Homo sapiens: one gene and its partners. The protein of the gene in region 1 binds, or shares a complex with, the protein of each later gene. Each region holds a gene or a part of one and is shown in the gene's direction. Other genes may lie near its edges. The genes, in order: TAF13, TAF4 and TAF12.

Region 1 (3,651 bases):
AGAAAAAAAAACTGTGCCTCTATTGAATATGTATAGACTTTTTTCCTTGTCACTATTCCCTAAACAGTATAGTATAACAACTATTTACATAGCATTTACATTGTATTAGGTATTGTAAGTAACCTAGAGATGATTTAAAATATACATAGGATGTATTTAGCTTATATGCAAATACTATGCCATTTTATATCTGGGATTTGAGCATCTGCAGATTTTGGTATCCACGGGAGGTCCTGGAACCAAGCTCCCAAGGATACTAAGGGACAACTGTATACATGTGCGCACACACACACACACACACTCACACACTTGTAATCACTACTAAGATCAAGATACAGAACACTTCCAGCATTTGACAGCATTTCTTACCATTTACATATACCCCTTTGATAATCTGATAAAAGTTATAATTATTCCCAGAAAAATGCCCATGTACAGATAATGTATAAAATTTTTCCGTATGATTTCAGGGTAGTCTCAAGGACTTCTTTTTTTATTTTTTGAGGCAGAGTCTCCCTCTTTCGCCCAGGTTGGAATGCATTGGCATGATCTCAGCTCTCCGCAACCTCTGCCTCCTGGGTTCAAGCTATTCTCCTGCCTCAGCCTCCCAAATAGCTGGGATTACAGGTGCGTGCCACCACGCCCCCCTAATTTTTGTATTTTTAGTAGAGACGGGGTTTCACCATGTTGGTCAGGCTGGTCTCAAACTCCCGACCTCAGGTGATCCGCCCACCTTGGCCTCCCAAAGTGCTGGAATTATAGGCGTGAACCACCGCGCTGGCCTTCAAGGACTTCTTAAAGCTTGTCTCTGGACTGGGAGTTTATAGGCGATAGGATAAGAACCTCTGTGGATCTCAGCTGGGTGTGGTGGCTCACACCTGTAATCCTAGCACTTTGGGAGGCCAAGGCAGGAGGATTACTTGAGTCCAGGAGTTCAAGACCAGCCTGGGCAACAAGGTGGGACCCTGTCTCTACGAAAAAATAAAAATAAATAAATAGTTAGAAACCAGTTCAAAAACTGCCTAGGCAACATAGCAAGACCCCTGTCTCTAGAAAAAATTTTAAATGGCTGGGTGTGGTAGCTTAGGCCTGTAATCCCAATAATTTGGGAGGCCAAGGCAGGCAGATCACTTGAGGCCAGGAATTCAAGACTATCTGGGCAACGTGGCAAAACCCTGACTCTACTAAAAAATACAAAAAAATTAGCTGGGTGTGGTAGCGCATGGCTGTAATCCCAGCTACTTGGAGGCTAAAGTTTGAGAATCTCTTGAATCCGGGAGGTGGAGGTTGCAGTGAGTTGAGATCGTGCCATTGCACTCCACCCTGGGTGACACAGTGACACTTCTGTTTCAAAAAAAACCCCACATATTAGCCAGGCATAGTGGCATGTGTCTGTAGTCTCAGCTGCTCACGTGAGCCAGGGAGGTTGAGGCTGCAGCAAGCTGTACTGCAACACCACTCCAGCCTGGGCGACAGAGCCAAGACTGTCTCAAAAAAGGAGAGCAAAAAAAAGAATTCACACGGATCCTGTCTGCCCTAAACTACAACTACCAACAAGTGCGATGCTGTTGTGGGTATGAGTAAAGACGCGAACCAGATCAGCTGGGTTCAAACTCAGGTTCCATCTCTTACTAGCTTTGTGACCTTGGGTAAATCAGTTACTGCAGTGCTTTAATTTTCTCATCTATAGAATGGGGATAATCAATAGTTTCTACCTTAAAGGATCATTGTGAGGATTAAATGAGTTATATATGTAAAGGACTTAAGACAGTACCTGGCATATAATAAGGGCTATATATGTTTTATCTTTTGGCAGTTATTTTTATTTGTCTGTATTAGACTTCTCTCTTATTATTTTTGAGACACAGTCTCTCTTATTATTATTATTATTTTTGAGACACAGCCTCCCTCTGTCACCCAGGCTGGAGTGCAGTGGCGCATTCTCAGCTCACTGCAACCTCTGCCTCCTGGATTCAAGCGATTCTCATGCCTCAGCCTCCCGAGTAGCTGGGATTATAGGCATGTGCCAACACCCCCAGCTGACTTTTGTGTTTTTTTTTTTTTTTTAGTAGAAACAGGTTTTCACCTTGTTGGCCAGGCTGATCTCAAACTTCTGGCCTCAAGTGATCTGCCTCAGCCTCCTGAAGTGCTGGGATTACAGGCGTGAGCCACCATCCAGGCCTACGCCCAGCTAATTTTTGTTTTTTATGTAGAGACAGGGTTTCGCCATGTTGCCCAGGCTTGTCTCAAACTCCTGAGCTCAAGCAGTCTACTTGCCTGGGCCTCCCAAAGTGCTGGGTTTACAGGCGTGGGCCACTGCACCCGACCTAGACTTATCCTTTGCATTTCCTATGGTTTCTTCAGATGAAGCCTGAAAGGGCTTTGCTGCAGTTGTATTGATCTAGGAAATGTCAAAATTCCTTGTAGTAAGCCCTCTGCTTTCTCATTTTGAGTACCCTGTTTCTTCCTATAAGAACAGATTTGGGGCTGGGCGCGGTGGCTCACGCCTGTAATCCCAGCACTTTGGGAGGCTGAGGCACGCAGATCACCAGGTCAGATCATCGAGACCATCCTGGCTAACACAGTGAAACCCCTTCTCTACTAAAAATACAAAAAATTAGCCGGGCGTGGTGGTGGGTGCCTGTAGTCCCAGCTACTCGGGAGGCTGAGGCAGGAGAATGGTGTGAACCCAGGAGGCGATGGAGCTTGCAGTGAGCCAAGATGGTGCCACTGCACTCCAGCTTGGGCGACAGAGCGAGACTCTGTCTCAAGAAAAACAAACAAACAAACAAACAAAAAAAGTATTTGGAGAACTGTCTCTCATGTCTTTTCCCCTATGGTAATATCAGTAAAGAGTCTGCCGTTTTTCCAACGCCCCACTGCCATGCCCACACACAAAAACCACCTCCAAAAAAGGCTAAGCTGTTGCTGTCTGTCCTGTCCTTTGCCAGAGTTTCCTACTTAAAGGTGTTCTGCTGGGGGCAGGGACTGGTAAGTAGATGCTAGAGATTAGGAAAAGACTGTTTACCTTAGGGTTCAGTAGGTGGGAGGAAGGAAGAGTTTTGCTGGAGGCTACGTGGGAACAGTTGGTCATCAGACTGTTCTTAAACCTTTTACACAAGAATCCATACTTGGAGATAACAAATACGATGTAAATATGTTTTCATACCAATATTATCTATAACTTGGTTCATTTCTACTTTATTTTTTTAAAGTATCAAATTGTTAAATCTGTAAAAGTAAACAAAAGTAAGTGATTGTTCTTTTACAGTGCGATGTATGATGTATGGCTTTGGGGATGACCAGAATCCTTATACTGAGTCAGTGGATATTCTTGAAGATCTTGTCATAGAGTTTATCACTGAAATGGTAAGATTCTTTCCTAACTGGTCTTAGTTAATTGAAGAATAGATTTGAAATATTAAACTTTAGGTAAGACTAGAACTTATGGCATCCCTTTGAAATAAGCTATCCATTTGAGTGCTTGTTTGCAGAAGTTATTGGTTACTATTTATCATTGAGGATGGAGGTTATACATGTATATTCTATCCCCCCTTCTTCCTTTTGTTTTTTTTTTTTTTTGAGATGGAGTTTCGTTCTTGTTGCCCAGACTGGAGTGCAATGGCACGATCTTGGCTCACTGCAACCTCC
Region 2 (3,651 bases), on another chromosome or scaffold:
AGGGCCGAAGCTCCCGACCCCTGAGCTGTGGTAGGGAGCACGGATTCTGACTTGGAGGGCAGAGTGCCCAGGACTTGCCTCTCCCGGCGTGTGTCTGTGTCTGGCCCCATGACTGTCACCTGCACGTGCCCGCACGCTGCGTGTTCCTGCCCCGTCTCCTGCCGTGTTTCCCTGGCACTGTGATGCTGCTGCTCTGAATGACCTGGCAGGTTTGTGAAGACTGGAATGACTTGATCAGCATCCTTCTCCTGCTACGTGAGCTGCGTACCCTCTGGAGTTGTGCCTCTGTCCCATAGACAGGGACGTGGACGGACGTGCCGGAGGCTGCCAGAGACCACCCAGATCTGAAGTAGCACAGAACGGTGTCCTCAAGTCTGCAGCATCTGTCTGCTGAGTGGGACACTGTGGAAGACACTCGTGGCTTCACTTGCACTGTGGGCATCCCATTGCAGTCTGCCATCTGCTCTTTCCATGTCAGTCTCTCTCCGACAAACTTCATGGGCTCAGGACTTGTGGCGTCCCTCTGTCCTGGGCAGCCACCTTCCTTCCCCTCTCTGGCACTGACTGGCCATCTAGCCTAGGGGCGGCCACCTCCCTACCCCTTTGCGACACTGACTGGCCGTCTGCCTTTGCATCCTTTTTAGTGATTGTTAACGAGGTCACAAGCCAGCAGCACGAGGATTGATTTCTAGATACCTGCGTTCTTCAGAGATGACCTTTTGTAGACTCTGTTAAGAAGCCTAATGATATGTTTATTGTAGTATAGGAAAATGTTTGTCATACACTTGTTCTTTGGTAAGAAAACTTTAGAATTACAGTGGCTTCATTGCAGATCACGGATAAGCCTGGGACCCACTTGGATATACTAGTTACATATGGAAGGAATAATTTCTGTGTACCTGGGGGTGGGAATTCCTTTTACTTGCGCTCGTTTTAGGTGACTCTGCTTATTTTTCAGGCACCTGGAACACCTATCATTGCACGGCAGGTGACCCCAACTACCATAATTAAGCAAGTGTCTCAGGCCCAGACAACGGTGCAGCCCAGTGCAACCCTGCAGCGCTCGCCCGGCGTCCAGGTGAGAGGGCAGGCGGCGGATCTCTTGAGGCTGCAGGGGCCACGAAGTGTGATTTCTTTGATGCAGAGATCAGGCCTTAGGAGTTTTTTTTTTTTTTTAAACTGGATACTACGTCAAATCTGGGGAGGAAGGTTCTCTGTGAAGAAAGTGCTTTTTCTTTGACCACCAACATGGGATAAGTCAGGATTTCTTTTTTTCTTTTTTCTTTTTTTTAGTCACACAGAATTTAACACCAGCAGCACTGTTCAAGCTTTCCACCATGTTGGAAGCATTAAAACTATGTCCTTACTAGTACTTGATCATAAGGCATGTCTGAAGCAGAAGCAGCCTGCGGTGAGGACAGTGTGTGTGTGCACATGTGGCCTTGTGTGTAACTTGAGGACGGCGGCTGTCGCTAAGGTGAACGTGGCCGAGGCGTCGCTCTCACTGTTGCAGGCACATGGACCGTAACTTTCACCGCACCCTGGGAAGCAGATGACATCGCTCCCTTCATCTCGTGGTGCGGCGCTTACACTGAGGCAAGGGAGGCTCTGGGACTCACTCCCGGCCATGCCACCTGCACGGTGCCTGCCACGCCACGCTGCCACCTGCCGCTCACATCCCTCGTCTGTAGTGAGAGCATCGTTCTAGAAGGGTTCTGTATCCACCCTGGTGGCCGCTGGTTTCTAGAACAGCGTTTTCATCTGCAGAGAGGAGCGTGTCCCAGAGCAGGTGCTGGCCCCTCTCCTAGTGGTGCTGATGCTCCTGACAGCTCAGCCTTTGGCCTGCAGATCCCAGAAGGGTTTGTGTGCAGGCCAGGCTGTTCTGGAAGGGGTGGCGGAGGTGTGTGGAGGGGAAGGGGCTGGCCGGTCAGACGCACCTGGTGAGGGAAGCAGCTTTCTCTGGGCAGTCAGCAGGAAGCAGCTGGGAGAAAAATGGTTCAGGGGTTTTTCTTGGTCACCTGGTGTCTGTGAGCATCCGTGGATGCGTAGGTCTCTATGGTGTTGGTCGCTGCTGGTGAAGCACCTGCCATGAGCCAGGCAGTGGGCCTGGACGCTCTGCAGAGAGATCCAGAGTCCTTGCCTCAGTGCCACAGGCCCTTTTCCCATTGCTCAGTGGTGAAATGGAGGCTGAGCCCCAGGGGGTGTGGACTCCAGGGGCAGCTCCCCCCGCAACCCCGGCTCTTCTACCCTCACTGGGTCATGTCCTGGCTGGCTGCAGCTGCAGTGGGTGAAAGTGGGTGGAAGGGCGGTTCAGTACCAGGGAGATGTGTGCTGGCCTTTGGTGCAGGCCCCGCCCTTGGTGTTTTCCCTGAAGGAGCTTGCTCAGTCCTGTGCTCTGATTGGTGCGTCTGGATTTTTGGTTACAGTGACTTTTTTGAGAAGGTAGTTGGAGCTTATGGTTAAGTTTTTGCATTATACTTAGTGGCAGACACAATCTGGATATCATCTGAGTGAAATATGTGTTCTTAGGAGTGGAAGTAAGTGTGAGGAGTCAGTTTTGATGGGAAAGAAGACTCCCAAAAGATGAGGTGGGTCCTGGGTACTCCCAGGGTCCAGAAGCAGCAGCTTGGTGTGTCCTTTTATGTTTTCTTCACTGGAGGTTTTTATTTGATGTTTTTCAGTTAAAAAAAAAATCCATGCTTATTGTTACAAGTGAAAAGATACACAGACTTAGAAACAGTCCCTCCACCCTGCTGCCTCCTCACAGCCCATCCGCACCCCTCTGGAAGCGGGGCTGGTTCAGAGTTGCTTCCCACGTGCTGGCGGGGCTGCACCCACCGGGAGAGAGCTCGCTGCTCCGGAGCCATTCTCAGGCTTACACTGCCCCCTGCTTTCAGAAGTTGCAAAGGAGTGTTTAAAAAATTGGAGACAGAAAATGTTGACTGCTAGATTTATACATTGGAAAAGTACTAGTTTAAAATATCAGTAAACATTTGCATTCTGATTATTCATGTAGAATGGAAATGTTAGGAATCGAGTACAGGCCACTGAGTTGTCTGAGCTACCTTTTGGCGTCTGGCTGTTCATTTGCTTAGCAAAGCAGCCCCTCCTTTCTGACAGTTTGACACTGATGACCCATCCTCCATTGCTCGAATCTGCTCTGAAAACTCCCCTCTGTGGGAGGCTTCTTGTTGACACTCACTTTTGGGGAGTAAAGAAAGGTGGGTTTGGGTGATTGCAGGGAGCTGGGGACCCTCCCCTATGGGAGGCTGCGGCTGTGGAGCCCTGACCGCCCTGTAGCCAGCCTCTGCACCTGGGAGGATGGAGCTTTCAGGAGCCGTTCTTCTGTTTGTTGTTTTGATTTCTGAGAGATGGGGATCTGGGTTGCCTGTTAGGATTATTTACTCTGGTCTCTATGTGACTTTTTCCATGGACTTCTGAGGACTGGGGTCTCTGCAGTGCCTGGCTTTGTGAACGTCCGTTTTTGATGCAGGTGCAAATCATGCCTTCCTCACCCGCTCAGGACTGCGATCGTCAGGGCACAGGGCAGGCCTCCCAGCAGCACTCCCGTGTCCAGCGGGCTGGCAGGTGGCCGGGGTCCTTGGCTTCCTGGGCGTCCTGGCCACCGCAGGGAGGCTTGTTTTCTTTTGC
Region 3 (3,651 bases), about 80 Mb from region 1:
ATTTTTTTTTTTTTATTTGTAGTGACCAGATCTCACTATGTTGCCCAGGCTGGTCTCAAACTCCTAGGTTCAAGTGATCCTCCCGCTCAGCCTGCCAAACTGCTAGAATTATAGGTGTGAGCCACCAAGCCCACCCTGTACTTCATTATTAACTTAATTTTTTCAGATGAGAAAATTGAGGCATAAAGAGATTATGTAGCTTGCTCAATACAGCTGAAAAGTGGCACAGTTGGTACTTAAACCCAGATACTGCTACCATGGTTCATATCCTTGACCACTGTACTATACACTATACTACCTTTTGTTGTTGTTAGAGACAGGATCTTTTTGTGTTGCCCAGGCTGGTCTCCAACTCCTAACCTCAAACAGTCCTCCCATGTTGTCCTCCCAAAGTTCTGGGATTACAGACGTGGGGTCCCACATGTGGCCTATACTGCCTTTTTGATAAGTCAAAAGCAGCTGGAGCCTCAACTAACCAATCCTAATTGCACACTGGAAAAAAATCTTGCATTTCTATTGCTCTCGAGTCTCACAGACTGCAAATAATTGATCCTTTTTAGCTTATTTAGGCTGGGAAATATGAGCTCATTTAGATACATTTAGAAGCCAGAGAGGAAAGAAACAGCCAGGTAGAAAAACCAGTCATTAAGTGAAGTCATGCACCACAGTATAGGGCTTTTATGCCATCAGGCCAGTCCTCTTGATTCCAGTATTTTGCTTAAATAATAAATTACTAAACATTTCAGAGGTAAAAAAAGGTTTTGAAGGCTACCTTTTCTTCTGTTCCCCTTTCTCTTCACCTTTGTTTTGTTTTTTTAAAAAAAAAAAAACAGTTAATGGAATAGATGCACAGAGAATACCAGGGTCTTACAACTATTGCCAAGGTCTCCTTAATTCCTACCCTATGAAAAATTAGACCCTCTCAATACAATAATAGGGTTGCAGCTAGACTTCTGTTTGAAGTACAAGGTTGTTAAAGGGAAGCAATTAGGGCTTGTCATCCTCAGCCAGTCAACCACAGTTTAAAAGGAGGGAGGATAGGCCGGGTGCAGTGGCTCATGCCTGTAATCCCAGCACTTTGGGAGGCCGAGGTGGGCAGATCATGAGTTCAGGAGATTGAGACCATCCTGGCTAACACGGTGAAACCCCATGTCTACTAAAAATACAAAAAATTAGCCGGGTGTGGTGGCAGGCGCCTGTAGACCCAGCTACTCAGGAGGCTGAGACAGGAGAATGGTGTGAGCCCAGGAGGTGGAGCTGGCAGTGAGCCAAGATTGCGCCACTGCACTGTAGCCTGGGCGACACTGCACTGTAGCCTGGGCGACACAGTGAGACTCCATCTCAAAAAAAAAAAAAAAAAAAAAAAAAGGAGGGAGGATAGATGTGGTTTTTTTTATTTATTTATTTATTTATTTGAGACGGAGTCTTGCTCTGTCGCCCAGGCTGGAGTGCAGTGGCGCGATCTCGGCTCACTGCAAGCTCCACCTCCCGGGTTCGCGCTATTCTCCTGCTTCAGCCTCCGGAGTAGCTGGGACTACAGGCACCCGCCACCATGCCTGTCTAATTTTTTGTATTTTTTTTTTTAGTAGAGGTGAGGTTTCACCCTGTTAGCCAGGATGGTCTCGATCCTGACCTCGTGATCCGCCTGCCTCGGCCTCCCAAAGTGCTGGGATTACAGGCATGAGCCACCATGCCTGGCCTACTTATTTATTTTTTAGATGGAGTTTTGCTCTTGTTGCCCAGGCTGGAGTGCAATGGCGTGATCTCGGCTCACTGCAACCTCCACCTCCCGGGTTCAAACAATTCTCCTGCCTCAGCTTCCCGAGTAGCTGGGATTACAGGAATACCCCACCATGCCCGGCTAATTTTGTATTTTTAGTAGAAATGGGTTTTCTGCATGTTGGTCGGGCTGGTCTCAAACTTCCGACCTCAGGTGATCTGCCCACCTCGGCCTCCCAAAGTGTTGGGATTACAGGCGTGAGCCACTGCACCTTGCCTAGATGGGTTTATTTAAATTGAACTCTAACCCATACAATCGTGTTTTGATAGAATTACTAAATATTTTCAACAACCAATCACTGGGGGGTGGACTTTCCATATTTACTTTGTGACTCATAGCACACAATTTCTACATAGTAGGTAATAGTAAGGGTTAATTATTATTGTTCTCTCAAACTGTCCCACAGTTAATGCCTGTTTTTTGTGGGGTTTTTTTTTTTTTTTTTTTTTGAGATGGAGTCTCGCTCTGTCGCCCAAGCTGGAGTGCAGTGGTGTGATCTCGGCCTACTGCAACCCCTGCCTCCCGAGTTCAAGCTATTGTCCTGCCTCAGCCTCCTAAATAGCTGAGATTACAGGCAAGCGCCACCACGCCTGGCTAATTTTTTTGTATTTTTAGTAGAGACGGAGTTTCACCATGTTGGTCAGGATGGTCTCGAACTCCTGACCTTGTGATCCACCTGCTTCAGCCTCCCAAAGTGTGGAGATTACAGGCGTGAGCCACTGTGCCCGGCCAGTTAATGCCTGTTTTTGTTTTTGATTTTTATTTATTTTTTATTTATTTGTTTGAGACAGTCTCACTCTGTCATCCAGGCTGGGTTGCAGTGGCGCAATCTCGGCTAACTGCAACCTCCACCTCCTGGGTTCAAGTGATTCTCCTGCCTCAGCCTCCCGAATAGCTGGGATTACAGGCACGCGCCACCACACCTGGCTAATTTTTTTTTTTTTTTTTTTTTGAGATGGAGTTTCGCTTTCATTGCCCAGGCTGGAGTGCGATGGCACAATCTCGGCTCACCGGAACCTCCGCCTCCCGGATTCTAGCGATTCTCCTGCCTCAGCCTCCCGAATAGCTGGGATTACAGGCATGCACCACCATGCCCAGCTAATTTTTGTATTTTTAGTAGAGACGGGGTTTCACCATGTTGGTCAGGCTGGTTTAGAACTCCCAGCCTTAGATGATCTGCCCACCTCGGCCTCCCAAAGTGCTGGGATTACAGGTGTGAGCCAACATACCCGGCTAATTTTTGTATTTTTAGTAGAGACGGGGTTTCACCGTGTTAGCCAAACTGGTCTTGAACTCCTGACCTCAAGTGATCTGCCCGCCTCAGCCTCCCAAAGTGCTGGGATTACAGGCATGAGCCACTGCACCTGGCCCTGTTTTACTTTTTAAAATTTATTTTCGGTTGGATACAGTGTCTCATGCCTGTAATCCCAGCACTTTGGGAGGCTGAGGCGGGTGGATCACCTGAGGTCGGGAATTCAAGACCAGCCTGGCCAACATGACGAAATGCCATCTCTACTAAAAAATGCAAAAATTAGCCCAGCATGGTGGCACGTGCCTGTAATCCCAGCTACTCTGGAGGCTGAGGCAGTAGAATCGCTTGAACCCGGGAGGCAGAGGTTACAGTGAGCCAAGATTGGGCTCCTGTACTCTGGCCTGGGCAACAGAGTGAGATTCTGTCTCAAAAAAAAAAAAAAAAAAAAGTAGGCCGGGCTTGGAGGTGCATGCCCTGTAATCCCAGCACTTTGGGAGGCCGAGGCAGGTGGATCACCTGAGGTCAGGAGTTCGCGACCAGTCTAACATGGTGAAACCCCGTCTGTACTAAATAAAAAAAAAAATAGCTGGGCATGGTGGTGTATACCTGTAATCCGAGC

Evidence for each region.
Region 2: TAF13 (region 1) and TAF4 share a complex: the UniProt entries of both Homo sapiens proteins name them as parts of the TFIID basal transcription factor complex.
Region 3: TAF13 (region 1) and TAF12 share a complex: the UniProt entries of both Homo sapiens proteins name them as parts of the TFIID basal transcription factor complex.

What each region holds. Positions count from the first base shown.
Region 1 is NC_000001.11:109,065,853-109,069,503, reverse strand, and holds part of TAF13 (transcription initiation factor TFIID subunit 13), read left to right. Parts: intron 1-3,271; coding exon 3,272-3,369; intron 3,370-3,651. UniProt on the Homo sapiens protein: The TFIID basal transcription factor complex plays a major role in the initiation of RNA polymerase II (Pol II)-dependent transcription.
Region 2 is NC_000020.11:62,010,242-62,013,892, reverse strand, and holds part of TAF4 (transcription initiation factor TFIID subunit 4), read left to right. Parts: intron 1-958; coding exon 959-1,078; intron 1,079-3,651. UniProt on the Homo sapiens protein: The TFIID basal transcription factor complex plays a major role in the initiation of RNA polymerase II (Pol II)-dependent transcription.
Region 3 is NC_000001.11:28,632,994-28,636,644, reverse strand, and holds part of TAF12 (transcription initiation factor TFIID subunit 12), read left to right. Parts: intron 1-3,651. UniProt on the Homo sapiens protein: The TFIID basal transcription factor complex plays a major role in the initiation of RNA polymerase II (Pol II)-dependent transcription.